Homo sapiens: one gene and its partners. The protein of the gene in region 4 purifies or fractionates together with the protein of the main gene of each other region. This does not show direct contact. Each region holds a gene or a part of one and is shown on either strand. Other genes may lie near its edges.

Region 1 (7,900 bases), on a different chromosome or scaffold from region 4:
GATGCTCTCATCTTGTCTTGCTGGCTTTCCTGTTTCCTTCACATATTCAGCCACCTCTGCCTACCCTTTAAATGTTGATATTCCGAGGGTTTGCTCCTTGGCCAACTTCTCAATCTTCATTCTCATCTTTCTGACATGCTAAGGACTTCCAAGCCTGTATTTGTAACCCAGATTGTTCTTCTGAATTCTAGACCTTTAATACATACACGTGACACTAGGTATCTCTACTAGGATCTCTCCCGGGACTTCATATTCAAGATGCCAAACTAGTTTCCACCACATGCCCCGTACTTGCTCTACTTTCTTCCTGAAATGCTTTGTCTTCAGATATTGATGTGGTTGGCTCCTTTGTATCATTTGGGTCTCAGTTCCAACGTCACCTTCTCAGATGCTTTCCCTTGACTACCTCCTCTAATTTGCCCTTCACAGCAAGCCACAACCCAGCATCAGTTATCTTAATACAACTACATGAAGTTATTGTACCTACTTATGTCTTCTTTCAGGCTACTAAATGAAAGCTTCCTAAGAACAGAGGCATTGTCCATCTTATTCACTGCTGTATTGCTACAGTACCTGGCATGTAGCACATCACAAAAAATACTTATTGAATGAACAAAACTCCTCAATTTTGAACCTTGGAAAGATTATGCTAAATGAAAGATGCCAGAGACAAAAGAGTATGTATTGTATGATCACACTTACATGAAATGTCCAGAACAGGCAAATCTATAAAGAAGTAGATTAGTGGTTGCTTAGGGCTGGAGAGGTAGTGGGGATTGTCTATGACTGCTAATGAATACAAGGTATCTCTTGGGAGTGATGAAAATGTGCTGGAATTAGAGAGAGGTGATGGTTGTATAACTCTATGTTAAGAACGACTGAATTATACTCTTTAAATGAGTTGTATGGTATGTAAATTGTGAGTTGTATGGTATGTAAACTGTATCTCAATAAAGCTGTTACGAAACAACCAAATTCCCAAATTTACTCCAGAGTTGCCCCATCTCTTATACTCCTTGAGTGAATAACACTACCCTTTCCCAACTGCCAAACTTAGGAATCTGATCATAACATCCTCTCTGCCCTGCCTTCCCTCCCCACAACCACCCTTCCAGATACAGCTGATCAGCCACAAAATCCTGAAGATCTCATTTGCATACTCTCTCACACTCACATCACTCACTACAGGCTCTCGTCAGCTAGACTTAGAATCTTTCAATATCTCACTGAATCTGCTCTACTCAATCCATGCTTTTATTCATCCATGCTTTTATTCATCTGCTACACTGCTGCCAGGAGAGATTTTCCTAAAACATAATTCCCACAATATCCATGCTTGCTTAATAGCCTTCGCTGGCTCCCTGTAATTGACTTGATAAAGGTCCAAACTCCTGTGTATACGAGGTGCTTCCTAAACTGGACCTCAACTGCCTGTCGCTTCATCTGCTAACTCAACTCTTTAGCTACAGCCATGAGGAATCTGGCCACAAGCTGTGACCACTCTCACTTTCATATGTGCCACTTCCACTGCCTAGAACATCCTGGGCCCCCCAGTCTTTAACTCCTACTCATTCTTTAGGACTCAGCTCAGGCATCACATTTTTCAGGATCCACGAGGTATCCTTTTTTCCTCAATCTGTCAGAAATCCCTTTTCCATACTTTCACAGTGCTCAGTGCAATGCCTGCCTGCGTTCTTAGATTAGCTATTATTTACAAAGCACCTACCGCGATGTTCACTCTTCAAGTTTTATCTTATTTCCATATGAGAAAACGGGTTCAGTGAGATTGTTGTCCTACTAATTGGTCAAGTAGATAATGGACTTCAGGTCTGACTTCAAAGTAATAGTCTCCTATTATTCCAAAGTATCTCTCCAATATTTCCCACTGTGCACTGTAATTCTCTCCAAAAGAGCGAGAGCAATTAACTGGGCCCTCTGTTGCGTCTATATCCCCATGTGTGGTGCTTGACACTTGCTCAGTGTTTGCTCATCACAGGAAGACATGACAGGTGTGAACTAAGCAGAAGGAAACGGACTATGTCCCAAGCAGGTGCTCAATGAAGCCTTACTGAATGATTGTGTAAAGGAGATACTTTCTACCTTTTGGAAAGCGTATATTCATGTTGTGCCAACTAGTATCTAACAATAAACATGTTGTGGGTTCGAAATGCTCATCTGTAGGAATTCAAGTTCTCTACATTTGCATCTCCCCTTCAGCAGCATTCCCGACTGATGAGGATCGTGTCCACTGAAAGGCCACTCTCCTTATGGACAGTCGAGGGCTGAGTTTTTGTCCCTAACACCTCTGCACTTTCTCTTCTCCAGCTTTACACCTTCCTTATTCTACTAGGGCCTGAGCTGAGAAGATCGAAACTCACGGCAAGTCCCTAATATTTTCTAACTTCTGGCACATGTGAAGCCCTGGTGTTAAGAAACAGACTTAATTCTTCCCTGCACGGCTGTAGCCTCATTCAGGTCCTCCTCTCATCCTGTCGGTCATAAGCTTCACCGGCTCCCTCACAGCTTGCCCTGACGCGCAGAGATCCGTGCTTGTGCTAAGTGAAAACGCTTCTTAGCGTGTACGAAAGCGAGCGGTGGCCCCGTAAAACTTTTTTTTTTCCGACTCCAACATACCCTCCCCTGAAACTGATGAAAAAGCAAAATCCCGTTCACTCTATAGCAGGCCCCTTCCGATCAACGGTCCTCCAACCCCTCGAGCCTGAGAAGCCTGGCCCGCAAGCGCGGACCAAAGGCAGGCTGCCGGGGTAGGTGGGAGCGCGGGCGACGGAGGAGGCCAGTCTCCGGTTACCCCTCGCGCCCCTCACAGCCCGTGGCTTCATTCCCTCTCTCGCTGGTCCCTTACAGGGGTCGGATCAGCAGCTGGTCGCTCTCCTCAGCAGGAATCGCAGACATCCCGAAAGTGTGAGGGCGAAGCGGGGGTGAGGAACAGGTCGCCGGGGTCTTCCTAAATTGGAAGCACAGCCACCGGTAAATAAAAAAGGAAGAACCCCATTCACCAAGAGCACAACTTCCGTCACTCCGGAGCCCGCGGCACTAGACTCCTCCCCTCGACTTCCGGTCGGGGGACGCCGCTCGCGAGGCTTCCCACCACTTGGGGTCTTGGAACCGGGGGTAGGACGTCAGGACTGCGCCTGCGCATAGTCTTGGAGGCGCGGCCCGGCGGACGTGGGCAGGAGGGCTGGAAAAGCCGGCGCTGGAGCGGGAACGGGAGTAGCTGCCTGGGCGCCAAAGGCCGCGGCACTCCCACGCGGACCCCGAAGTCCGCAACCCGGGGATGGGCCCGCGGCTGCGAGGTGAGCGCCCAGCCCTCGTCCCGCTTGGGGCCGAGCTCGCGGAGGCCTGACGGGAACACGGTCCCGAGAGCGGCGCGGACGGCCAGGAAGGATGGGTGGGGCCGCGGGGCGGGCGGAGGAGGGATGCCTGGGCTCGGGCTTGGTTCCGGGCGGGGCCGCGCTCCCGGGGCGCGGGTGGAGGAGCTTGGAACCACGCAGATCGGGCGTGGGCTTGCGGACTGCAGCTTCCCGAGCCGCTGTCGCCCCGGAGGGGCGGCAAGGCGGGCGGCCGCGGGCCGTTTCCTTGCCTCTTCCTCTGCCCCGCTTCGGCCGCCTCCCGCCTCTCAGGGTCGGGGTTGTCTGTCCCCTTCGCTGTCACATCCTCCGCACCCAGCGCTTGGAAGGTGCTCCATCACGGTGACAGACAGGTGCCAAGCAGGCTGGCGTCTGGGAGGAACTTCGGAGCCGGCTCTCCCTAGGCCCCGAGCTTGGCCGCATCCGTCCTTACTCTGGTGACCCTGGGCAGGTCACTGACTCTTCGGGCGCTTTGGCATCCTCGTTTGAAAGGGGCTGTTATCCTGCAGCCTTGCTGGTCGGTGAGGGTGAGGGTGAGAGGGATCTGTGCACCTAGCACCGTGCATGGCACGTGGTAGGCGTTTGGTACATGGGAATCGCTGTTGGGGTGTCACCTCCCCAGAAAGTTCTCGGCTTCAGTAAGCGCGTCCCCTGCCAGGCGCCCTGGCAATGCAGAGGAGTCACCGAGCTCCGCCTTTGACCAGCGTGCAGCTGGGAGAGTGAGATCAGAGACCACAGCAGATCGTGGCGCTGTGATCAGGGGGTACACTCAAGCTGTGGGTCCCTTACCCCAGCCTTGAGATCCCAGGAAGGCCTGCAGCCTGAAACGGGCCTTGAAAGGTAAGAAGTAGCCAAGTGCCTGACAGGTGAAGGACGTCCCGGGCGGTGCAAAGCAGGGGCGCGTGGAGCATCGCGCTGAGAACCAGGAGCAGCTTTGCCTTGCTGAGATCAATGAACTGTGCCCGGGTTGTGGAGGATGGAAGTGGAAAGGTGATTAGGAGCTGGGTCCTGGAGGACCTGGCGTGTCGTGCTGAAGAACGTTGACTTTGGTCTCTGACTTTGGAGAACCAGTGAAAGATTTTCAGCAGGCTAGTGGCATTAGATTCATGTTTGAAAGAAATCATTTTAATCGTTTTGGCTGCAGTGTGGGGGTAGATTTAAAGTGTTAGGGAATCCAGTAGGACAAGGTCCCTTATCCACGAAATATCCTTGGGTTTGTGAATTCCTTAAATTCATGCCAAACTTTGTATGGATGTGCATTTTTATAGGGTGAGGATCCATCACATTCATCAGTTTCTAAAAAAATAGTGTCTGTGCCCATGGTTTAGGATGACGGGGGCCCTGGTGGAGAGCTGGCTCAGAGAGCTCTTCAGGTGGGGTATACAGTGGGTCTTGGTGCCAGATTGGATGTGGGGCCTGAAGGACAGCAAGGAAATCATGATTTTCTGGCTTCCTCCAGCAATAATAGAATCTCCTGACAGGGAGAGGAGAGGAGAGGAGCAGATCTGGAGGGGAGGATGATGGGTTCAGCTTGAGACATCTTTGCATTTGATGAGCCTGCGGAGCATCCAATCGCCAATCAGGATCATTGGCCTCATTTTGATGCATGAATAATTTTTTTTTTTTTTTTTTGAGACGGAGTCTCGCTCTTTCGTCCAGGCTGGAGTGCAGTGGCGCGATCTCGGCTCACTGCAAGCTCCGCCTCCCGGGTTCACGCCATTCTCCTGCCTCAGGCTCCTGAGTAGCTGGGACTACAGGCGCCCACCACCACGCACAGCCAATTTTTTGTATTTTTAGTAGAGACGGGGTTTCACCATGTTAGCCAGGATGGTCTCGATCTCCTGACCTCGTGATCCGCCCGACTTGGCCTCCCAAAGTGCTGGGATTACAGGCGTGAGCCACCCATGAATAATTTTGAGGCAAGAATGATTTGCTTGAGAACATGCATCAAAATTGCAGCAGATATCAAAGACTTTAATAAATGCTGCTTTTTCCTAAGCCGCTGGGTTGATGATGAAAAGAAAGCCTTAAGGAGTTGCTAAGGCATTGTCGTGTCATGATTTTCATATCAAGGGATTTGAGGAGACACTTCAGGATTCCACTGACAGTAGAATCACATTTTGTTTTTAAAATAAGTTTTGATTTAAAATTCAAATCATATTTAAAATTGTTACCTATATATAAATATGTATTTATATATACTTAAGTATCTGATGTTTAAATATGTTACACATCAACATTTTAACCCGTGAGCGCCATTAACATGGCACTTTATGCTGCTACGTTAACCTAGTTTCGTGCAGGCCTTGGAATAAGGCTCTCCTGCCATCTCTCACTGACAAGTGTCCTGTGCTGGTAAGGTTCCCCTTTGCAGCAATCACCCGCAGTCTTCTTCCAACACATCTCTCACTTTTTACCCTTATCCAGTGGAGTTAGTTCGCTATCTGGCAGCCAGGGTCATCGTTTAAAAAACAGAAGACACCTGATTGTGTCGCTAAACTGCTTTTTAAAAGCCTCCATTCCAGAAGATCACAGCAGATAAGCAAAAAATAAATAAAAAGCCTTCAGAGTATTCCTCTTAAACTAAAGTCCACTGTTACCGCGGCCTGCCTGGCCTTCTGTGGCACTTTGGGCCCATTGCTGTCCTCCTGCTCCCGGACAGCCTTGACTGTTCCCTCGGGCCCCTCTCCACCCGCACGGCATTGCCTCCAGGCTATTTATGGCTGCCCGCACTTCTTTCAGAAAAAGAGCTACAGCATCTTTTTCTGAAATACCCACCCCTTCCTTCCATTAGTCTGTGTCTCCTCAACTTGTGTTAGTTTTCCTCATAGCAGTGGTTTCCTAATAATATGTTTCATGTGTGTTTTTCTTGTTGGTCTGTCTACTCTCGCTAAGAACAGGCTCCCTGAGGTCAGGGGCTCTGTTTGGTTCACTGATGCATCCCCGACACCTGGTAGGTGCTCACTGACTATCCAGGAATGAATGAATAAATCAGATTTTCCTGGTACCCCACAAATAAAGCAAAAATATAGAAGTAAATTGGATGATGAGGCTGATTAAAAAGCTTGGGCTCAGTGGTCAGACTTGGGCAAGTGGCCTAATGTCGTCCCCTAGTAAGTGGACTTAGAGTGGGGTCTCCAAATACGGAGAATCTTTGGGTTGCAGCAGGAGCTTTCACTGACTGCTGCGTGAGTTGCTCGTTCTTTTTCCTTCATCAGGTGCGTAGTTTCTCTGAAAAGCATCACCCAGGTCAGAATGAAAGGAAACTCTCTGTGCAGACCGCTGTATGTGGGACCTTTGAAGACAGTCAAATAGTGTTCAATTCTATAGTAAGCAGATTTTCTTGTTCTCTCTGGAGAATACAGTTTTTGGTAAAAAATTGATCAGGTTATCTTATTCATAAATCGTCTTGAGAGGCAGGTCACAGTTCCCTCATCTGTAAAAGGCAGATTACAGCCCACCTTCTGTGAGCCCCTTGAGGGAGAGCTTAGAGCCCTGCAGAGTGTGTGGCATATGGTATGCCCTTAAAAAGCATCAGTAGAGCAAATGGATATGTCACAAGGTTATCATGAGGCTATGACAGTAGAACTGTCCCGGGAGTTCTGTGAGCTGTGCAGCTTCATGTAGGTTAGTTAATTTGCCAAGTATAGTATATGCTGTCCTTATGCAACTGGCAAGGATGAATCTTAGTTTCCAATGCATTTATTATTATTAATTTCAAAAAAAGAAATATGTAACACAGACTCTGGGAGGCAAGGTCATCTCCTTAACTACGCTTAATAGAGAGGGGAGGTGAGGTGCTGGCACCTGGGAATGTCTTTGTGTCAGCTTTTACTTAAAGGTATTTCAAAACTTCAAGAAAAATGCACATTTCTGAGAGGTGTGTATATCTTAGCCCTACCAAGTATAGAATGTGAAACTGAGAGGGTTACTGAATCTTAGTATCTCGACTGAAAAGCCAATGTGTCATAGTATATTTTGCTAAAATCTTGACTCAATTGAAGAGAAGTAAGGCCCTTAAAATTTTGAGAACTAGGTGACGTGTCTGAAAATTTTGAGAAAAGTGCTTTTCACACCTGTAGGACAAGAAGGTTTCTGCCTTTTTTGCTTATTGGGTTAACTTTCTATAATTTAATAGGAAAGAATGAAAAGGAATAGTATCCAAGGGAAAAGTTAATTGATGATTTTTATTTCTATTTTGCATAAAGTGATTTAATGTTGCATTTCCTGATGTAACTGTAACCAATATCAAAGTTGCTTTTCCTGGCTGGGCATGGTGGCTCACAGCTGTAATCCCAGCACTTTGGGAGGCCAAGGCGGGAGGATCGCCTGAGAGCAGGAGTTTGAGACCAGCCTGGCCAACATGGCAAGATCCTGTCTCTACAAAAAATGAAATTAGCTGGGTGTAGTGGCACATGCCTGTAGTCCCAGCTACTCGGGGAGGCTGAGGTGTGAGGTCAAGACTGCAGAGCCATGTTTGTGCCACTGCACTCCAGCCTGGGTAAGAGCAAGACTCTGTCTCTTAAAAAAAA
Region 2 (7,033 bases), on a different chromosome or scaffold from region 4:
TCAGTAGCAATACACTAGGAAGTAAAATATATTTAGAATTTAAACATTGTGTGCCAGTGGTCCTCGCGCTTGACTGCACATCAGTTACTTGAAGAGCCACACCTCAGATCAATGCAGTCAGAACCTGGGAAGTAGGTCCCAGACATCAGGACCTTTTTAAAGCTCCCCAAGTGATTCTACGTTCCCCAAGTTTGAGGACCACTTTTCTGTGCATTGGCTTGCACAATTTGAAAGTAATGCTTTTCCTGAGCTGGATCCCAGTGTTGCCTTAACAGGGTGTCTGTCGTGCCGCAGTAGAGCACTGCTGCTTCCTCCAACCCCAAAATTTATGTTCCTAAGTAAGTCAGGTCCCTAAGCCCCGTCCCAAGAAGTGACACAAGTGGCCAACATCCACACTGTAGGCTTGCAGGCTACCCGCCCTGAGATTTGGTAAAGAACACTGCCTTGTTCCCCATCAGTAAACAAGGTTACCTACCTCAGGAGGCTGCTTGTGAGAGAGCAAATGCAGTATCTTCAGAATGATTTATTTTTTTAATTAATTGTAAAGACTTGTGCCATTGGCTGCTCTTTCTAGTCCCCTAAATTTCTGTTCTAGTTTTAAATTTCTCTAGAACTTGCAATAGTTGGGGGTTTTATAATGATGTTTTACAATGTTTATTTCTTAAATAAAAACTTAAAAATTCAACATTTCTCAGCTGGTGGCTCACACCTGTAATCCCAGCATTTTGGGAGGCCAAGGCGGGAGGATCACTTGAGGCCAGGAGTTCAAGACCAGCCTGGGCAACACAGTTAAACCCCATCGCCACAGAAAATCTTCAAAAAATTTGCCAGATATGGTGGCACACAACTGTGATCCCAGCTACTTGGGGTGGGGCTGAGGTGGGAAGATCACTTGAGCCCAGGAGGTTGAGGCTGCAGTGAACTGTGATCACACCACTGCACCACAGCCTAGGCAACAGCGAGACCTTGTCTCAAAAATTTTTTCTCAAATCAAACATCATTGAAAATCTACTTTTTATAAGCTTCAAATCACAACATCTAGTATGTATGCTGACAGTGATGTTTTTAAATGCCATATATATTTAATAAGTATAATGTAGAGGTTTATTGTTTAAATGAATTCACTCTCAAAATGTGATCTGTCAAGTCCAGTAGAGCTTCAAGGTAAAATGAAAATTTTTAAATGTGATCTGGTTATCTGCTTACTGAGATACTATGTTTCTAAAGTTAAAGCCCAAAATAATGAAAATTTTTCCACTAGAATCTCAGGGAAAAAAAGTCTAATCTTGATATGGGTTTGGTCTCTGGATCCGGTTTTAGCTTCATGAAATTTGATTACAGTTTCTCTCTCTTTAAGCTATACCAGTTGGGGGTGAGTGAAGAAATACCCATAACCTAAAGCAATCTTGAGCCTCCTAATAGCATGTTTATGGTGGAGCGCTGATTAAATAAGCTGTAATTTCAAAGTTAAAAAAAAAATAGTCTCTAGATTCTAACACTGAAAAGCAGTGTATATGGCTGACATTTTCTCACTCCACAGAAATCAATTAGCTTTTGCTGTTTTTTACATTCATAGAGAACCAGTTAAATTTTCATATCCTGTTAAACTATATCAGTATGCCTTTTCTAAGCAACCATTGAAACTTCCAGCACCAGCGGCCAGGTACTGTGGCTCAGATCTGCAATCCCAGCACTTTGGGAGGCCACAGCAGGTGGACCGCTTGAGCCCAGGAGTTTGAAACCAGCATAGACAAAGTGGTGAAACTCCATCTCTACAAAAAACACACACACAAAAAATTAGCTGGGCATGGTGGCATATGCCTGTAGTCCTAGCTACTAGGGAGGCTGAGGCAGGGTCAAAGCTGAAGTGAGCCGTGATTGCACCACTGCACTCCTGGCTGGGTGACAGAGCAAGACTCTGTCAAAAAAGGAAAAGAAAAAAAGAAACTTCCAGCACCACTAAATTTGCCAAATAAATTTGACTGATGCCAAAACTGAAGCTGCCAATGTAATGAAATGTTAAGGTGGCCATAGGACAGTCCTTTTAATAAAAGCTTCCATGTAAAACCAAAATAAAGGTCAGTATAGAAAGTATCATGGGGTATATAACAAACTGAATTTTTGGCTTCCAATCCAAACTGGGCTAAATGGTATGTTTATTTTAAACAAGGAATTTGCCATGGACAAGATCTATCTGGCTTACTGTGAGTTAGAAGTACGCCCTGCCGTAACACTGGTATTTCCACATAGTATGGAAGAGGAAGAGAGGAAAACTTAATTAAGTGTTGCAAAATTGTTTGAGGACCTATTTTGGTCCATTCCTTATCAACTCCATGTGTGATTTCAAGTTATCTAAAGGGCATGTGACTTTATTTCTGACTAACATCAAGTTCCTCTCCTCATCATAACAAGGCGATTCAAACCTAAACTGTGATTCTTAGGAGATGCTTCCAAGGGGAAGCTCCCTCGTTGGACATCCAGAAGATTGCATTTTCTCTTCAGAGTACAATTTTCCATCTGTCAGAGCATGTCTGAATAAAAATTTGAACCTACTACAAACTACATTAGAATAATTTTCAAGTATTTTTCTGTCACAAAAATGGTGTGACAGAATGTGTTGAAAAACACAAAGTTCACAGCTGAGATTAATTTAGATAACCTAGTGGTTAATATGCTCATGAACATCAGCAACAACCGTGCATTCCTTGGCAGATGGGATGCGATGGAAACCAAAGGTTTCCTTAAGGCAAGCACTTCACAACTAGTTTTCTGTCAATTCTTGCGTAAATCACATTCTGTATTCATACAAAAACTTTGTTTTTCTCTGACAAACTGTACACATAGAAACAAATTTCCAAATGGACAGGAACTTAAATTTGTGGAGATGCCCCATGTCTTGTGAGACTTAAAAAAAAGAAAAAGATCCCAGCTTTTATCTTCACAAAACAACATGGGAGTTGGGGCAATGAGGGTGGACAGGACAGGGCCAGCCAGGCTGGTAGCTGGCAGCAGTCTCTTCATCTTGAAGACCTCATTGAGGGTTCCTGGGATTCAGGTGCCCAGAAAAGAGTTCAGGGCTACAATGGTGCAGGCTTCCTTTTGTTTCTCTTGGTGAGTCCACAAGAAGTTCTTACATACTGTCCAGAGAGGCCTCAGGGTACTCAGTTCCAGCTTCTACCGACCCCTTCCACCACCCCGTGAAGCTCCTCGCCTCGGCGGGCCAGAGTTCATGTTACTCCCTCTACCCCAGTTACTGCCACTCCGGCCCCCTCGAGAAGGGGTGCCACTGCCTGGAGGGCCCCCAAAAGGTTCATCTCTGTGGTATCCATCGTGGTGCTCTCCGTCTAAGGAGCTGGAACGCCCAGATTTGGGCACTCTCTGAGCAGGTCCTGGGCCCCCTCGGCCTGAAACAAAGAAAATTTCACATGGGACTTTTTGTATTAGCAACTGTTTGTCAGTAACTCCCAGTACAAACTTTACTCTCTGATGACAATGGACCAGTTCTGGTGGGTGCCAGGGAGACTGGCAGTGGTATTCAGCGTACTGAGAGGTGTGCCTCTACCCTTTCCTGACCCTGCCTCCCCCTTCCTGGCTCATGGCCATGGGCCTCAGCATCAGCCAGATCCATGCCCCCAGGGCTGTGTGACAGACGACAGGAAGCCAAGAGATGAGCAAGGAGCACCTTCAGGGAGACCCGGGCCACACTGGGCCATGTCCCAGGCCATGGGAAGTGTATCTGCCTGCTCCCAGCCACCAGGGTATATTGAGGGAAGGTTTGAATATACTGACTTAACTTTGGAAGTACACACTGCTAATGTTAATAAAAAGTGCTCCAACTAGGACAAGCGTTCACTGGGACTGTCCCGTGACATGTGGCACTTTTGGCTTCCTTTTCATAATTAGTAAAATAAAGTATTTCTTGAAAAAACAAAAGAAAAGCACAAAAACCCAAAAACCCCACAAAACACTGGCTTTCAGGTTCTATCACCGAGGCACAGCTTAACCTGCTTCAGACTAGTATGCACAAATGTTTAGGTACTATTAAAATTCTTTCATTCTGTTGCAGCTTGAGAATATATTTAAAAAAAAAAAAAAAAGAAAAAAAAGAAAGGAAAAGGAAAAAAAATTCTATCTTGTAAGATTTTTTTCCTCAGGAAATGATAGGATTTGGTCACATCTCCCATAATGCACTCTCAGAAGATGACTGCAAACTCTCCGCTGTCTCATATTTTGTAATAGAATATGAATCTAGCTGAGATGAAGTTAGGAGAGCCAGCCAAAGGAACAATCTTGGCTTCTTTTCTTAGAAAGTGCAGCTTCAACCCACCTGAGGCACCTGGGCAGAGTGTCAGCTACTACATCATTCCCATGCTAACTGCATGTCCTTGACCAGAGGGACCTAATAATGGTGTGCTGAGTGCCCAAGAAAGTCAGCCAAGGTCACAGCACACTGGCTAGTAGTACAATGTGTTTATGCAGGGTGATCTATTGATGATACATAAGGTAATTTCTGAGGGTTTTGTTGAGACAAACAACTATCAAGATCAAATGGCAGGCCAGGCATGGTGGCTCATGAGAGGCCAAGGCAGGTGGATCACTTGAGGCCAGGAGTTCGAGACCAGCCTAGCCAACATGGCAAAAGCCCATCTCTCTAAAAACACAAAAGCATGGTGGCGCACACCTGTAGTTCCAGCTACTGGGGAGACTGAGGCACAAGAATCACTTGAACCTGGGAGGCGGGGGTTGCTTGCAGTAAGCCAAGATCACACCACTGCACTCCAGCCTGGGCGACAGAAAAAAACCCAAAAAGACCAAATGGCAGAACTCTGTACTGGAAGGACCGTCCATACAGACAGGCCAACTTCAGGAGCAGAGCACAAGCTGGGGCATGCGGGGAGCAGCCTTCCCAGAAGCTTCCGAGCCACACCACCTATGCACCTCCCCCGCTGCCTTGCAACCAGAGTTGTATAGTCAGCCTTCAGAGGCAACTACTCCTGGCTAAAGTTAGTGCTGCCTATAACATAAAGCTCCACAGTTCCCAGTTGAGGAGATAATCTACTGTGCCCCTGGAAACACTGCCCATAGACCATGTTTCCCAAAGTCTCTGTGACTTTGAGCACAAGCAGTGTTCCTCTAGACCCAGGCTAAAAAAACCAACAGACCACCCAGGAGAGGACAACTCTTCCCCTCCCACTGAGAGCCCTTGAGGGTTCCAAGCAGCCTTGTGGAGGGCAGACTGCCAAGGAGAGCAGGGCTCCCAGACAGCAAGCCGAGCAGAGAGTGCTGGGGCATCTTGGCAGAGGGCTGAAGTGAAAACCTCAAGTGAACAGGGATTCCCGGAGGCAAGTGGAGTCCTGTGCAGGGCTGAGTTGCAGTCCACCAGATGACAGCTCGTGTGGCACTGGCACCACATTTAGGAGCATGTGCCTCTGCACAGCCCAGGCTGCAAGGGCATGTGCAGCAGATACAGGCAAGGCCTCCATCGGCCCCTGCATCTCCTGGAACCATAACCACTGGCCTGCTCTTACCTTTGCCTCCTCGGTCTTCAGAAGGGCCTCCTGGGGCCTCCATCTCTCTGTGCTCAGAAGTGCCTGGGCCATCATGCCAGGGGCGCTTTCGGGGAGGTAGGGATGCCATGTCCATGCCTTGGAGAGAAGAGGAGCGTTCTCTGCTGGCTGGGGAATGACCGTCGTGAGGGGGATGATCAGGGCGGGGAGTATCACGAAAATGTTCATGACCTGGCCCTGAAACAAGAAACAAATCTCCTTACAGGAAAGCACAGTGTGACCAGAAGTAGATGGGAATGACACTGTGAGAGTAAGGAGCAACTCGAGAGCCACCGTTCACTCATGCTGAATGCCCGCCAGAGGCCAAAGGGTAAGCCACCCAGACATCAGGGTGCCTCCTCATGTAAGAGGGGCAGGTAAGATCCAGAGAACTCGTTCTCAGGCATTGTAGTATCAAGACGTCTTTACAGTCTCAAATTACTGAGGACTCCTAAGAGATTTTGTTAATGAGAGTTGTAACTGCGAATATTTACCATATTAGCAATTGAGACTGGGGAAATTTTAATTCACTTAACTTTATTCTCCAAAAGCAATTTAGTGGAAAGAGCAGTCCCGTTTTATACTCAGATAGATCCCTGTAATGTCTGGCGGATTCCTCTGCTCTGCATTCCACCTGCTGAGATCAAGTGCTGCGGCTGCAGGACAGGAGACAGCCCAGCCCCCCGGGAGACATGAGCTGGAAAGAGGAGACCCGGTGCACCCCAGAGAGGGCCCTCAGAACTCACTTTGTGAACTGCAGTCTAGAGTTACCCAACAAGCGGTTCTTTTCCTTACCAGGCTCTCTGTTTCCATCCCAGGAATCTGGCTTCCGCCCTCCTTCAAAGCGAGGGAACTCGTCAGGAGTGGGAAGTAAACCCTTCCTTCCTCCTACACAACAGAGCAAACAATGCTGCACTCAGACTGTTCCTGGTGTATTCACAACCAGTGTATTCTGCACCCTATCCTTCCAGACCAGGTGTCTTTAGTAACTCGCTCACCTCGTGGGGTACCCCGACCTCGACCTCTGAGATCTCGTCCTCGGGCCGCTTCCTCAGAAGCATCAAAATTCTCCTCTGGACCAAAGTCTTCAGGACCAGGAAAACCATCCCTTCCTCTGGGGGGAGCACGGCCCTCATGCCTCGGCGGGGCTCCTCTTCTGAAACTGTAAAGAGAAAACAGCAGAATGTCCATCTCAGAGAACACCTTGCCACTCTAAGTTCATGTTTCAAAGAAGCATATGATATGAGAAAGCATGATACAATGTTAATTGGGAGGAAAACAAAATAAAACTATATATTTTTGAAAGGATACATTATATAATCCTATTAATACTATCAGAGGCAAAAACAGACCAGAAGGAAACACACCAGAGTGTGGAGTTACTTTAAGCTTCTTTTAGGCTTTTAGGTATATACAAGTATTACTTCATTTCATTCATTTCATTTTCACAGCCACCATATGAAGCTGGTATTATCAGCAGTTCCACT
Region 3 (7,000 bases), on a different chromosome or scaffold from region 4:
AAAACAAAAAAAAAACAGTATGACTTTCTTAGAAAACTATAAATCTCCTGACTGGAAGCAGGCAGGTGATCCTCACAATCATCAAACTTAAAATTTAAAAATCCAGACCAAAAAAAAAAAATCATGAAACAATTATGTACCTTAAAAGATTTGCTAAAGATATGTCATTCCTTAGCTATATAGAATTAATATATACACAGAGACATACACACAGAAGCATGTCACAAGTTCTCTTTTTTAAAAACTCCAAAATCAGCCCAAATGTGAGACATATTTTATGTTCAAGACAGGGTCTCACTCTATCATATAGGCTAGATGCAGTGGCACAATTGTGGCTCACTGTAGTCTCGAACTCCTGAGCTCAAGCAATCCTCCTGCCTCAGCCTTCTAAGCTGAGATTACAGGTGCATGCCACCATGCCGACTAGGTTTCTGACAGGGTGTCCCTATAATCAGGCTGATGTAGAGCTCCTGGCCTCAAGCAATTCTCCCACCTCAGCCTCCCAAAGTGCTGGGATTACAGGCGTGAGTCACTGCCCCCAGCTGACATATATTTTAAATGGTTAAAAATATAAAAGGTTCCACAGACCCACTTAGTTTTAGAAGGGGGGAAAAAAACCAAAAGACATGAAAACTAGAAGGATGACAAATTCAGGAAGAAATCAAAAAAGCACATGCTTTTTTTACCTCATGAGGTGGCAAGGGTTCCAAAGTAGGAATGATCTCACTTTCTTCACCTGTTTCTTTTTCATCATCTCCGAACAGACTTTTCATGGCCTTTTGTTGTGCTATAACGCTAGAATCTGAGGGAGCTTCCACTTGCATCTCTGAGTCTTCTCCATCATCCTTTAGTTCTCCTTCTTCTAAAATAACCCCTGTGTCCACTTTGGAAACTCTCATATCTAAGACACCATCTATCCAAGCTAATTCAGCATCTTTTGCCTTACAAAACTGAAGAGAGCTGACAAGTGAGTCTTTTAACCTCACCTAGACATGCAAAGGAGGGGGAGAGAAATAAAACCCACAGAATACATATTAACAAATTAAATATAACCTATTATCATTTTCTACCTCTGGTAATATGTTAAAATTGGAAAATCTTTCACTCATCTGAGTCCCACAATGACCTGCAATGACCTCATTACCTGCAGATCATTGGGCCCCTGCCTACTTTCCAAAATAGAGATTCTTAACCCTGACTACAAAATGGAATCACATGGCAATTAAAACAAAAAGTATATCAGAGCGTCATATCCAGTGTTTCTAACATAACTGGTAAGATTAAGACCAGAAAAACTGAGTCCCTCTGACCCTCACGAAGCTCCCCAGATGATTCTTATGTGCAGTCAAGGTTGAGAACCACTGATCACTCCCATCCTCTAGTACTTGGCATACTTCAGTAGGTACTGAACTGCTTGTCCTTTCCTGAATATACCACAGAATTTCACATCTCCATATTCTTGGAAGGTTGCTTCTTCTTACTCTGCCCAGAATAAATTTCCTGCCTGGTATGTGCACATCCATTTCTTCCAGATATAGACATCACTCTGGCCTTAAACTGACACCATCTCCCATTACCAGACAAAATTTATCTCTCTACTGTGCTAGTCCTATATTTGGTATCCATCTCCATTTGTTCCAATTAGGAGTAGAACCTTGATATCCGGGAATTCTTCTAAAACTTTTGAATTCTTAATCATTTTCCTCACCTCTGTACTTTTGCAAATATGGTTCCCTCTGCCTAGAACGCTCTTCCCCCCCTTTCCTACTCTGTCTGTCCTGACAACCCATCTAAACATCAGTTAGGATTAGTTATCACTTCCTGTAGGAAACCTTTTCTAAACCTCTAAATGTGGGTGGTTTCCCCTCTTGATACTCTCATAGCATCCTGTACTTCTTCTCTCAGTGGCACAACAACATGATAAATGGTATTTCCTTGTTCTAAGCCCCATACCCTATGAGGTCTGCTAGGGCAGGAGACCATCCATGTCTGTCTCACACATCTCGGTATTTCTAATGTTATCTGTCCTAACCTGCAACAAAAAGTACTTATTTCTACTCAATGGCAACTCCTGGCATGTTTACCTGGTAGATGTGAGTTTCACTAGTGGCATCAACTGTTTCATGTAGCTTTGGCATGTACACTTTAATATCTTTCCCACCAAAGGCGCGACAGCACTCTGCCAGATCTTGACTGGCCTCTGGTGGGCCATGGACGATGATCAACTGTCGTGGTTTCATCTGATTAATGATTTTTTTAATGGAATCCCCATCAGAGCGTCCTTCATAGTCTATGTAGGTAACCCGGGCTCTGTAATTAGATATGATTATTCAAGATTACTTTTCTCATAATTCTAAAAAAAAATGGCTTTTATCATGTATACAATATATAACACTAGGATTTGAGAAATACACATGTTATAGTATCTGTATGATTTATTTTATTTTTGTTTTTATTTTTCTGAGATTGGGTCTCGCTCTTTTGCCCAGGCTAGAGTGCAGTAGCATGATCTTCGCTCATTGCAACCTCTACCTCCCAGGTTCAAGTGATTCTCCTGACTCAGCCTCCCAAGTAACTGGGATTATAGGCATGCACCACCACGCAGGGATAATTTTGCATTTTCAGTAGAGATGAGATTTCACCATGTTGGCCAGGCTGGTCTCAAACTCCTGATCTCGAGTGATCAGCCTATCTCGGCCTACCAAAGTGCTGGGATTACAGGCATCAGCCACCGTGCCCGGCCCTATCTGTATTATTTAGATTTTATCTACACCCAAAAATATATACTAAATGATATTACTGGACAAATAAAAAACTTTGTTCTCTGATGACTTAAAAGAAATTCCAAAATGATCACTTACTGGTATTATTTAACTAAGTAGAAAGCGGGAGAAAAAAGGTTTCTAACTACTTCAGATCACAACAGTATTTTCCAGACATTAGGGTCTTAGAGATGTTTAAGTTAAGGAGTATATTTTATGAAACAAGCAGTTACTCAGAAAAATTAAACTGTGAGTCACATTATTCCCTTTCACCTGCTTACAGAATAAAAAGGCCAAAAATAATTTTTCTTCATATAAATGTACAATTTAATGTTACAATTTAAGCACCCCCCACCACCACCAATTCAATTACTTTGGCATTCAAATACCATTAATGAAGAGAAAATATCATGCCACCATACTTCACAAGTCTCTTCATACAAAAATAAATTTTAAAAGCACAAACTTACTAAAGAATATTCAGAAATTTTGCTTGACATAATGTAAATTATATAATTCAAATGCTTGAAATTTTATCTTATAATCTATTTTCAAAATGTCACAAAAGCACTTACTTTATTTCAATAGACTCTGTTGTAGAAATACATTTAGTAGGAACATCAGATAAATCCTGATCCATAGGTTCATCTCCATTTGTCAAACCAGATTCTAATTTGCTTTTTTCTTCTTCAGTAGCTTGAAGCTCTGGCACTAAGAAATCCTCTGGTCTAAATAATAAGTCTCTAATTAGAAGCAGTAAAAAGCAAGCTAATACTACATAACATATATGACTAGTAGGTGGCATAATTTTTGGAGTCCTCACATATCTCAAGATTTAAATATACATTTCATCCAAAGCTGATGCAATTTCATATCAATTACCAGATGGCTGTATGTATTGCGTTTTTTGGTTTTTTTTGAGGTAGAGTCTCCCTCTGTCACCCAGGCTGGAGTGTGGTGGCGCCATCTCGGCTCACTGCAACCTCCGCCTCCCTGTTCAAGCAATTCTCTGCCTCAGCCCCCAGAGTAGCTAGGATTACAGGTGCCTGCCATCACGCCCGGCTAATTTTTTTGTATTTTTAGTGGAGATGTGGTTTCACCATCTTGGCCAGGCTGGTCCTGAACTCCTGACCTCATGATCCACCTGCCTCGGCCTCCCAAAGTGCTGGGATTACAGGCGTGAGCCACCACACCTGGCCTGTATCATGTTTTTCTTTTTTTATTTTCCACACAGGATAGTAGTGTTTTCAAATTTGCAATTACAACATGTGATTGCAGTTGTTTTTCTAATAGTCAGTATAGATTTTGTAGATTTTTCCATGATTTCACTCATGCTATCTCACATTCCTCTTAATCTCATAAAACTTGTATAATACTTAAGACATAATCCATTGGAAATGCAATCACCAGCCATCCAAAGTTCTTTTTTTTTTTTTAAAGATAGAGATGGGGGTCTCACTATATTGCCTGGGCTGGTCTCAAACTCCTGAGCTCAAGTGATCCTCCCATCTCGGCCTCCCAAAGTGTTGGGATTACAGGCATGAGCCACCACACACAGCCCCAAAGTTCTTCCTATCCTACATCTTCCTCTCTTTTTAAGTGGGGGAAAAAAGTCTTGATCACGTGATCATGTTTTTAAACCTTTACACAACTAAGTCATAAACTGCCAGTTTTCTCTCAATATTCTCTAGATGTTTCTCAGCATCTCTATTTTTATGTTTCAAGTTACAAGTCTTCTGTGTCTTCAGGCTGAGGTACTCAGAAGCTAACCCCATACATGTGACTAGAAAGATCAAGTGAAAGATCAAATTCACTGAAATGAAATGATAACACAGTTAATACCTCCAATTTGTAAGAGAGAAAAGTTTGTTTTGCTCACATACTTGATAATCTCTCCATATTCATCCCATTTAATTCTTTCTTCTGGGGCAGGAAACATAGGATAGGACTTTTTTGCCTGTTTGAAAAAACTTCCTTTACGACTGCCTTCACCTTTCATCATCAAGTCATGCTTCGTCTTATGAGCTGATGGCTGGTCAATATCTTCCTCAATATCACTCTCATCACTGGAATCTATATCTGCCCTAGGAGGATTTTAGAATAGATCAAGGTCATAAAGTTTCAAAGATATTTTAAATTAATATTTATCAATTTATTACTGAATCCATACTCAATATTATTAATTCAATATTAAATGATAATATACAGTTATGTCGGTCAACAACAATAGACCACATATACAACAGAGGTCCCATAAGATTACTGTACCTTTTCTATGTTTAGATACATTTAGATACACAAATACTTAACATTGTGTTACAATGGCCTACAGTATTCAGTACAGTAACATGCTGTACAGGTTTGTAGCCTAGGAACAATGGGCCATATCATATACTCTGGATACACAGTAGGCTATACCATCAAGGTTTGTGTAAACATATATCCTAATGTTTGCACAATGACTAAATCCCCTAACGACACTTTTCTCAGAACTGTCCCCATCATTAAGTGATGCATGACTGGAATAACATTCAACTTTATTGGACTGACATTTTATAAAACATAACAAATAAATGCATAATAATATTAGCACTGACAGGATCTGGTATTCTAGACATTTGAAAGATGTCTGTAACAAAATTAAGTCTTACGAAAATTTAAAAATATTTTCAATGAAACATTTAAGTCAAGGACACATTCTTCTCAAATTGCATCCATAAATTTATAATCTGTCTGAAAATGACTCACTCTTTTGACTGCTCAAGCTTTTTGGCAGCTTCTTTCTTTAGTTTCTCTTTTTCCAAGTATTCTTCAAGTTCTTTCCCTTCAAGCTTCACACGTTTCCTCAACTAAAAAAAAATAAAAGACAAAAGGAAATGTTAATATGTTAATATTAGGGGGTTAAAGCAGTGGGATATGAGATACATCACATCTCTAAATTGCTCTATCATCTTTAAACTGATTGTTTCCTCTGAAATTAATCAAGTTTCCATTACATACAATTATAGGTCCTATTTAGATTAGTATTAAAATTGAGCTGTCACACATCATCTAGAATGGGTTTAATTTAAATCAAACTGGTTGGCCAGGCACAGTAGCTCACACCTATAATCCTAGCACTGTGGGAGGACTGCTTGAGGCCAGGAGTTCAAGACCAGCCTGGGCAACATAGGTTGACTCTGTCTCTAGGAATAATTTAAAAATTAGCTGGGAGGCTGGGCACGGTGGCTCACACCTATAATCCTAGCACTTTGCAAGGCAGGAAAATCACTTGAGTTTGAGACTAGCCTGGGCAACATAATGAGACTTTGTCTCCACATAAAAAAAAAAAAAAAAAAAAGCCAGGAGTGGTGGCATGTGCCTGTTGTCCCCGCTACTCAGGTGGTTAAAGTGGAAGATCACTTGAGCCTGGGAGGTCAAGGCTGCAGTGAGCTGTGCTCACACCACTGTACTCCAGCCTGGGTGACAAAGCAATACTCTGTCTCAGAAAAAAAAAAAAAAAAGCCAGTAGTGGTAGCATGCACCTGTAGTCCCAGCTACTCAGAGACTGAGTATCACTTGAGTCTGAGACTGAGGATCACTTCAGTCTGACAGAGCAAGACCCTGTCTCAATCAACCAAACAATCAAACTGGTTAAAAATCACCAATCAGGAAAAGAAAATACAGATAAGCATTTTTATAATTTGGAGTAGGTGAGGCCCAAAAGCCATAATGGGAAACATAAATAAATACAGCAACATGAATAAAGAAAAACTCCCTTTGACATTTTAAATCTCAAAATAAGAAACTGAAAAGAAAAACAAAAAAGAAACAGAAAAATATTTTCAGCACTACGACCAATAAAAATGATTTTTTCCTAAGAGCTCTTCCAAATTAGTTAAGAAAAGGATGATCAACACATGAAAAAGCACAAGATACTTAAAAAGGCAATTTACAAAATAAGAAAGACAAATAACTACTGGCCATGAAAAGATCCTTAATTTTACTAATTTTTGAAAAGCACAAAATATAAAAAACATAATTGTTTTCATCTATGAGATTGGCAATGCCATACATGGGGAAAGAGTACCTTCTTCCATTATCTGTTGGAAAATTAGTGCAACTATGTTAAAAGGCAATTTGCTAACATCTAAAAATAAAATTTGACATTTGACACAGTATTTCTACTTCTAGGAATTTATCCTACTGAAACAATCACAAATGTGTAAAAAAAAAGTACATTCGTACATTGCAGCAAT
Region 4 (7,033 bases):
AAAGAAAATTATTTCAAATCACTACCTAGTAAAGTTTAAGTAATATTACAAAGGAATCCAACAGAGTACCACAAACATTAATAATTTTTTTAGTATCATTAATCAAATATGTTGAAACATTAATTATTTCTACCTTTTATTTATCTAATTCTTTTTCAGAGGACAAAGGATTCACATAGAAATCACAGAAGTCCTCATTTTGAATCACCTAAGTCCTCTTTCATTTGGTTAATACTCAGCATATTAAAGACACAAGAACCACAAGTCAATCCCAACTAATGAGTCGTTTCTGCTCAATCTATTTGTTGGAACTAGAAATTCACTGAAATTAGAAATACTAATGTTGTCTGGAATAAGGACCTCTAACCTATATTCCAACCTCTTCCTTCCACTATTGTTGAGACAACAGACCCTCTAAAGCCACAAGTCATTTTTTCATATTTTTCTCATACTTTTTGAGAGTAGAGGTGACAGTGGAAGGAAATCAAAGGCACTGAAGATGAAAGACAGAAGCAGTGGCTGACATTTAGAGGCCAAGGATGAATATGTTAGGGAAGGACTATTCAGACCCTGGATTTGGTTCTGTACTCGGATCACAACTGGCACCTTAAAACAAAGACAGCTCTCTTGCAAATAAAAGTGAGTGAGAGTACATGGCTCTCTAGTATAAACTGATTTGATTAATAGGAAGTAAAGCCTAACATACGTCTTTCATGTTGCCCTGATGAGGACAAGCAGCTATTTTTTCATCATTTACTACTAGCTTTCTCCCTGGGAAGAAGTAATTATTATCTCAATCAATCTTGCTAGTTTCATAAAAACTTGGTTAAGGCAGATAAAGGTTAAAAACAAAGTAAGAAAGGCAACCCGATGAAAAATTCAAATAAAAATAAAATTTGGGAATTATTTGTGAGTTTCTTCTCTATCACCACTAACCTGGTTTTTAATTGTAATCAAAAGTAGCTAAAAATATGATCAACATTTACTTTTGTTTAAAAGAAATAAATACCAGGCACCCAGTAGCAGTCTCCTAAAAGGAAACCGGTATACAGAAGAAGACCAGACTGAAATATTAATCAATCTCTTCGCAAGATATAATTTTTTGATCTACTCCCATCCTGAAAGTATCTTTTAATGTTTTTTTCAAAACAAATTAACACTGGTAAAGTTTGTAACTGAGTATGGATTTATACATATTCTATTAGCAACTTAAGTTTGGGGATCATTATCATATTTTTGAATCACAAGATTGGTATCTGTATATTCTTCTTAATTTTAGAACATTGTCTCTTTCCTATATTGAAATAGCAATAAACATATATATATCTGTTTCAGTGTGAATCTGTTGAAGATATTATATCTATTACTTTTAATGAAATGTGATCAAGATATTATTTTAATTGTCAAAAATTTTAAAAAACACTCGCAAGCTATTTTTCTTTCAAAGTCAAATGTCTTATTTACTATTTACCCGGTGGTGGAATCAGAGGTGGAGCAGTGCTGACAGTCGGAGGAGGTGGAAGAAATGGAGGAGGTGGAAGGTGAGTGGGAGGAGCTCCTGGAGGGAAAAACGGAGGTGGTTTGCTAAAATTGTTGTCTACTTCAGTAGCAGATCTTTCAGAAAGGACCTAAAATTAGAGCACAGTTAATTAAACAGATGCATAAATATTATGTAAGATTAATCTTAGTAAATTAATTTCATTTAATCTAAGAAACAAAGTAAAAGGTAGTTTAATTCACATATATGTATTTTTGGGGGGAGAGTAATAGTTCTACATGTGTGATATGTGTATACATACGCCTGTGTGAGTATACACATACATACAGTTTTAAAAATGTGCATATTCAAATCTTAAGAAAAAACAACTGGATCATTACCAAAAATTTCTTAATAAAAAGTAATTAATACAAACACTCCACACAAGAAAAAAGTACTTCATAAAGATCATTTAACAAGTATTATCTTTGTCACCCAACCAAAGTTGAAGTATTCAATTAAGGCAATGTAATCATTAATCACAGACACTGGCCTTAAGAAATTAACATGGCAGCAGGTCAGACATTCACTGTACAAGGGCCTGTCATCACCAGGTTGCAAAGTAAGAAACTGTCAGGCATGTGTCAACAGACTGCAAGCAATAGGCAGCAAGATATGTAAGTAACTTTATCATGTGAGCCTTGTAACTTTAAGACCAGGGTTTATTCTTGAAAAATAAAGCAATGTTTGCAAAATGCTTCTTTGTGTGAACAGGTTAAGGGACAGGCACCATAAGAAGCACCCCAAACCTACTGAAATAAAACAAGCAAAGTGGCACCTCAAAATCTGGATTTTTGATAAGCTCCCCAAGGATGTGTAAATAAATTTGGGAAAGACAGCCAACATAATGTTGTATATTTAATTTATACTTCTCAGATCCTTGCTGACTAAAGCAATCTTTTAAACATACAATCCCTCTTTCCATTAACACTTCCTACATTTAAGTGCAGTGTTTTTTGTAGGGCTTATGCTGATAAGCTATTTCTTAAAGTATTTATTTTGAGAAATCGTGGCATTTTAATGGTAAGGGGAAAGGAAAAATGGACTAACATCTTCCACTATAGAAATGATTTGCCTTTAAAGATGCTAAAAGGAATATTTTACATGATCAACTTATCAAAGGTAAGAATAAAGTGCTCTGGACATTTTTAAAAGGACTCAGAAAATAGGAATAAATAATGAAAAAAAGTATGGCCAAAATGAATAGCTGGAAGTCTCAGTTATTAAAGTTCTAACATTAATTATCCAACTTACTGATAATTTATCTCCCCTCAATTTTTCACCTAAAAACAAAGCAGCTCTACGCCACCTCCAGAAATGTCACATTAAATAAATCATGGTATATTTATCCAATGAAGCTATCATGAAGATATTTTAATCATATTTTAAGAATATGAAAACATACAAATGATAATTTTAGATGGGGAAAAAAGTATACACAGAAATATAATTATAATAGTATCCCAATTTTGCTTAGTATCAAGAGATGTACCAGATGTGGTTATCTTTAGGTGGTAAAATCACTGGTGGTCTTTTATTTTTCATTCAGTAAACCTATATACAAGTTGAGTATTCCTAATCCAAAAATCTGAAATCTGAAATGCTCTAAAATCCGAAACATTTTGAGCATCAACATTTTATCACAAGTGGAAAATTCCACACCCAACCTCACATGTGACGGATCACAATCAAAACTCAGGCCCACTACACAGTTTACTCAGGGTTGCCAAAGGAAAAAAGATTATCATAAATTAACAAATCATTATAACAAATTAAATAACTTATTTATGAAACATAAATTTCATGTTTAGACTTGGGTCTCATCTCTAAGATTACATACGTATGAACATTTCAAAATCCAAACATTTCAAAATCTGATACACTTCTGGTCCCAAGCATTTCAGATAAGAGATACTCAACCTGTACTATGTTTCTACCAAGGAAAAGAAAGAAAACCCTATTAAAAAAAGATTCAGAGATTATAAATTCTAACTGGAAATGCCTTTATAATAAATGACTGGCTTCACATTTTAAATCTCTTTGTATCACCTAAAACACAGCATAGCACTATGACTATCTATTGAATAAATTAAATTATAATGTTGATATCATCCTTCAGTTAAAGAAAATTATTTATTTTAAAATACTAAACCTGTATGTTGCTGTTCTCATTTGCCCGTCGCCTGCCTTCTACTCGGCTGATAGTTATAGTCTGACCGATAACATCAATTGCCCCAGGTAATCTCCTGTAACATAAAAATTGAATCAATTCAGTTTCACCTAATTAGATGCTTAAAAAATAATAAAAGCAGTGAGAAATAAAAACAAAATGTGTTTGCAATAAATTTTAAAATAAAACCAGATCACAATACACATTGAAAAATATCCCTGAGTTTAAGCTCACTACTTTGCATTGTCATAAAAATTTTTATTAATAAACAAGCTAGAACCAACATACCCAACAATGATCATAATGTTAAGTTTTAAGTCTCTGTAGAGCTCTTCTACACTTACTAGTTTTAGTAGTCTCCAAATAAATTTATCTTTGTGAAATTAAATAAGACAGCAAATGCTAGACAAATGGAAATTTTGGGACCACTACAATTGTAACACATACTACAGCTCTATTACAGAAACTTTAAATATTCCCCAAAAAGGCCTGAAAATAATGCTCATTTTAACATACACAAGATATTTTCCTTGTGATATATTCCAAGTGTTAAAAAACATAAAAAAGGAACCAGTTTGCCATTTCTGATAACTTGCATTTAGATAGAAAAATTCAAATATTTAAATACCCGCCTCACCTCTACAATCTTTTTAAAGTTTATAAGGATATGGAAAAATAGTCTATCATAAAACAATGCTATAAATTTAAGAGAAAAACCTAGTAAGTTGTATTTTAAATAAAATAATGTTAAAAGCTATTATGCAGATAAAGGACTTTACAAAAGTATGCATGCCTAAGATGATATAGAAGTCACTTGGAGAAATAGGCAATGAAAAGTGGATGCAAATTAGATGAATTTCTCTTCATCTATATTTCAGTTCTGAACAATACTGCCTTTAAAACTTTATAGAAGCAAAACAATTAAAATACCATAGATCCTTCCACAGTCACTAGATTAGGCTCCTAAAATGACAAATAACAGCAGCTACCATAGGTTGGATGCCAAACCCATTATATCTAAACTTCACAAAAACTGAAAAATTACTGTATACTTGTTAGAGACAAGCCATGGTCCAAAGTGAAATCACTGACACAAGCATGAATTAAATAGCAAAACTAACTTTCAAACCTGAGTCTTTCTAATCCCAAAGACTATAGACCTCCCCTCCCCTTGAGCTAGGTTTCCTTCCAGCAAGACCTTTGAGGAATTTAAGGCTTTTCTGGAAATCATGAGTTAGTAAGAGTTTATCTCAAGTAGACCTTGAAACACTCCACAAATTATTTTGTGCTAACAAAGACAGCCCTATAAAAAGCACATCATGACATCTGAAATGTTTTCAAGTACATAGTCAGTTCCCACTTACCATCCCTTGCCCACTTAAGACTTCCCTTCTCTATAACTTTAGTACAATTTAAAAATGTTCAAGCCTTTCTAATTTTATGCCTGAGTCACTGACTTCCTAGATTTCCTCATGATCCCAAAGATCATGAATGATTTCATTGGAGGATTAACATATCCTCCAATACAGCTGGGGAAAGATCTTAATATTCACATGTTACAAAAATCCAAATATCTCTACAATAAAACAAATATTGCTTCCATTTCTTCCCTATAATTTAAATTGCAAAGCTATGCCTACCATGACTGCATTATCAAAGCACATGCCATCAGCCCTCTGATATACAAACATTTCATATTCCAACATCCTACTAAATACAGGTGTGCATTCTGAGGCTGTAATTTCCTCTCTGTTAATTGCTGCCCTCCATTGTCAAAATTTTTATTTTCGCTCTATTTCCTTTTCTACTATTTTCTCTTGCCAATCACTGGACTCTCTCCTTTGCATTTTTAAATTTATTCCCATCAAGAACAAATTCTACCAAATTTGTTTGGACTTGCAAGTCAGATAGCAAATTCTCCAAATTGTTAAAAGTGGTAAAAATTAGATCTAGATATAACTTTCCTGTTGAGGGGAAAATTTTCTATAGCCTGTCTTTTACCATTTATTTCTGAGGATCTCTAGTTTTCAAAAAGTCTGGGACACATGGAAGTATTCACCTCTTAAAATGTACCTTAAATATGGTCAGAAGTCTAATTAGTTTTTTTCAACTTTAAATTGATTGTTTTTAATCACTAAAGATTCAAAATGGCAAATACTATGTTTCTAAAAACATATAACTGAGAAATCAGCCTTAACAAGTATATATCCCTAAAGGGAGTTCAGAAAATTACAATTCTCCACATTTTCAAAACATCTCCTTGTGCCCGTATTTTTTAACCACATAAACTGATTTACTTTAATCATATAAATTAAGCTTACCGTTTTGTTCCAAAATGTTTTATGATAAGACACACAGTATGTACCACAGCAACAAAAAGCACATAATATCTAACACTGACAAATAATTTAAAAATCTAATATTATTCTGATGCCACATTATGGAAAAAAATATTGAACCATATTATTCCACGAAAGTTCTTAATGGACAGCTTTTTCTTTCATTGCTTAAGAAGATTTAATAGAGTTTCCCTATGAGGAAATCTACTGTAACTTAAGAGTTCCCCAAAGCGTAGGTTTGATTAGGCCAACAAACTTGTTCAGTAAGGTAGACAGCTAATGCTATTATCAAAATCCTCTTCTCCATATTGGACTCAACCATCTAGTAAAAAGCTAAGAAACTAACCACTCTGGGTGTCTGAGTTAATGTACAGTTTAAACAGGCAGTAAATGTTCCCAAGAGCCTCTACCTCCCCTCCTGGCACAGTAAATGAATATAAAAATATCTCTGAAGTTACAATGGAATTAAATTATCATATTTTGATGATTCTGATATCCCAGAAAGAATCTGAGGGCTCCCTGCAGAGATGCAACAGAAAGTTTAAGATGACAAATCAGGGCTAATAGAAGATAGACAAAAGGCCATAAATTGATCTCTGAAGGTCAGGCTCACGCATGTAATGCCAACACTTTGGGAGCCTGAGGCGGGAGGATTACTTAAGCCCAGGAATTCAAGACCAGCCTGGGCAACATGGCGAGACTTTGTGTCTACAAATAATTTAAAATATCAGCTAGGCATAGTAGCACATGCTTGTGGTCCCAGCTATTCAGAGGGCTTAGGTGAGAGGATTGCTTGAGTCCAGGAGATGAAGGATGCAGTAAACTGTGATTGTGCCACTGCACTCCAGACTGGGCAACAAAACAAGAGCCTGTCTCAAAAAAAAAATATATATATATACATATATATATATCTCAGCTGCTTTTTCTTGGAAGCCAAAGCAAAGGACATCATTAACAACAAATGTCTTTAATGTGCATTAAGATTAA

Evidence for each region.
Region 1: the proteins of FIP1L1 (region 4) and CPSF3 purify together in Homo sapiens (affinity purification with mass spectrometry; 5 studies listed by BioGRID and IntAct, with this or other methods). This does not show direct contact.
Region 2: the proteins of FIP1L1 (region 4) and WDR33 purify together in Homo sapiens (affinity purification with mass spectrometry; 5 studies listed by BioGRID and IntAct, with this or other methods). This does not show direct contact.
Region 3: the proteins of FIP1L1 (region 4) and CPSF2 purify together in Homo sapiens (affinity purification with mass spectrometry; 7 studies listed by BioGRID and IntAct, with this or other methods). This does not show direct contact.

The regions. Positions count from the first base shown.
Region 1 is NC_000002.12:9,418,787-9,426,686, reverse strand, and holds the start of CPSF3 (cleavage and polyadenylation specificity factor subunit 3), read right to left. Parts: upstream 3,034-7,900; 5' UTR 2,914-3,033; coding exon 2,864-2,913; exon of another isoform or gene 2,472-2,863; coding exon of another isoform or gene 2,452-2,471; exon of another isoform or gene 1,727-2,451; intron 155-1,726; exon of another isoform or gene 127-154; coding exon of another isoform or gene 65-126; intron 1-64. UniProt on the Homo sapiens protein: Component of the cleavage and polyadenylation specificity factor (CPSF) complex that plays a key role in pre-mRNA 3'-end formation, recognizing the AAUAAA signal sequence and interacting with poly(A) polymerase and other factors to bring about cleavage and poly(A) addition.
Region 2 is NC_000002.12:127,703,149-127,710,181, forward strand, and holds part of WDR33 (pre-mRNA 3' end processing protein WDR33), read right to left. Parts: intron 6,709-7,033; coding exon 6,545-6,708; intron 6,435-6,544; coding exon 6,342-6,434; intron 5,745-6,341; coding exon 5,529-5,744; intron 3,405-5,528; coding exon 3,175-3,404; 3' UTR 1-3,174. UniProt on the Homo sapiens protein: Essential for both cleavage and polyadenylation of pre-mRNA 3' ends.
Region 3 is NC_000014.9:92,152,969-92,159,968, reverse strand, and holds part of CPSF2 (cleavage and polyadenylation specificity factor subunit 2), read right to left. Parts: intron 5,612-7,000; coding exon 5,511-5,611; intron 4,847-5,510; coding exon 4,646-4,846; intron 3,491-4,645; coding exon 3,338-3,490; intron 2,311-3,337; coding exon 2,085-2,310; intron 987-2,084; coding exon 687-986; intron 1-686. UniProt on the Homo sapiens protein: Component of the cleavage and polyadenylation specificity factor (CPSF) complex that play a key role in pre-mRNA 3'-end formation, recognizing the AAUAAA signal sequence and interacting with poly(A) polymerase and other factors to bring about cleavage and poly(A) addition.
Region 4 is NC_000004.12:53,422,622-53,429,654, reverse strand, and holds part of FIP1L1 (pre-mRNA 3'-end-processing factor FIP1), read right to left. Parts: intron 3,784-7,033; coding exon 3,690-3,783; intron 1,629-3,689; coding exon 1,472-1,628; intron 1-1,471.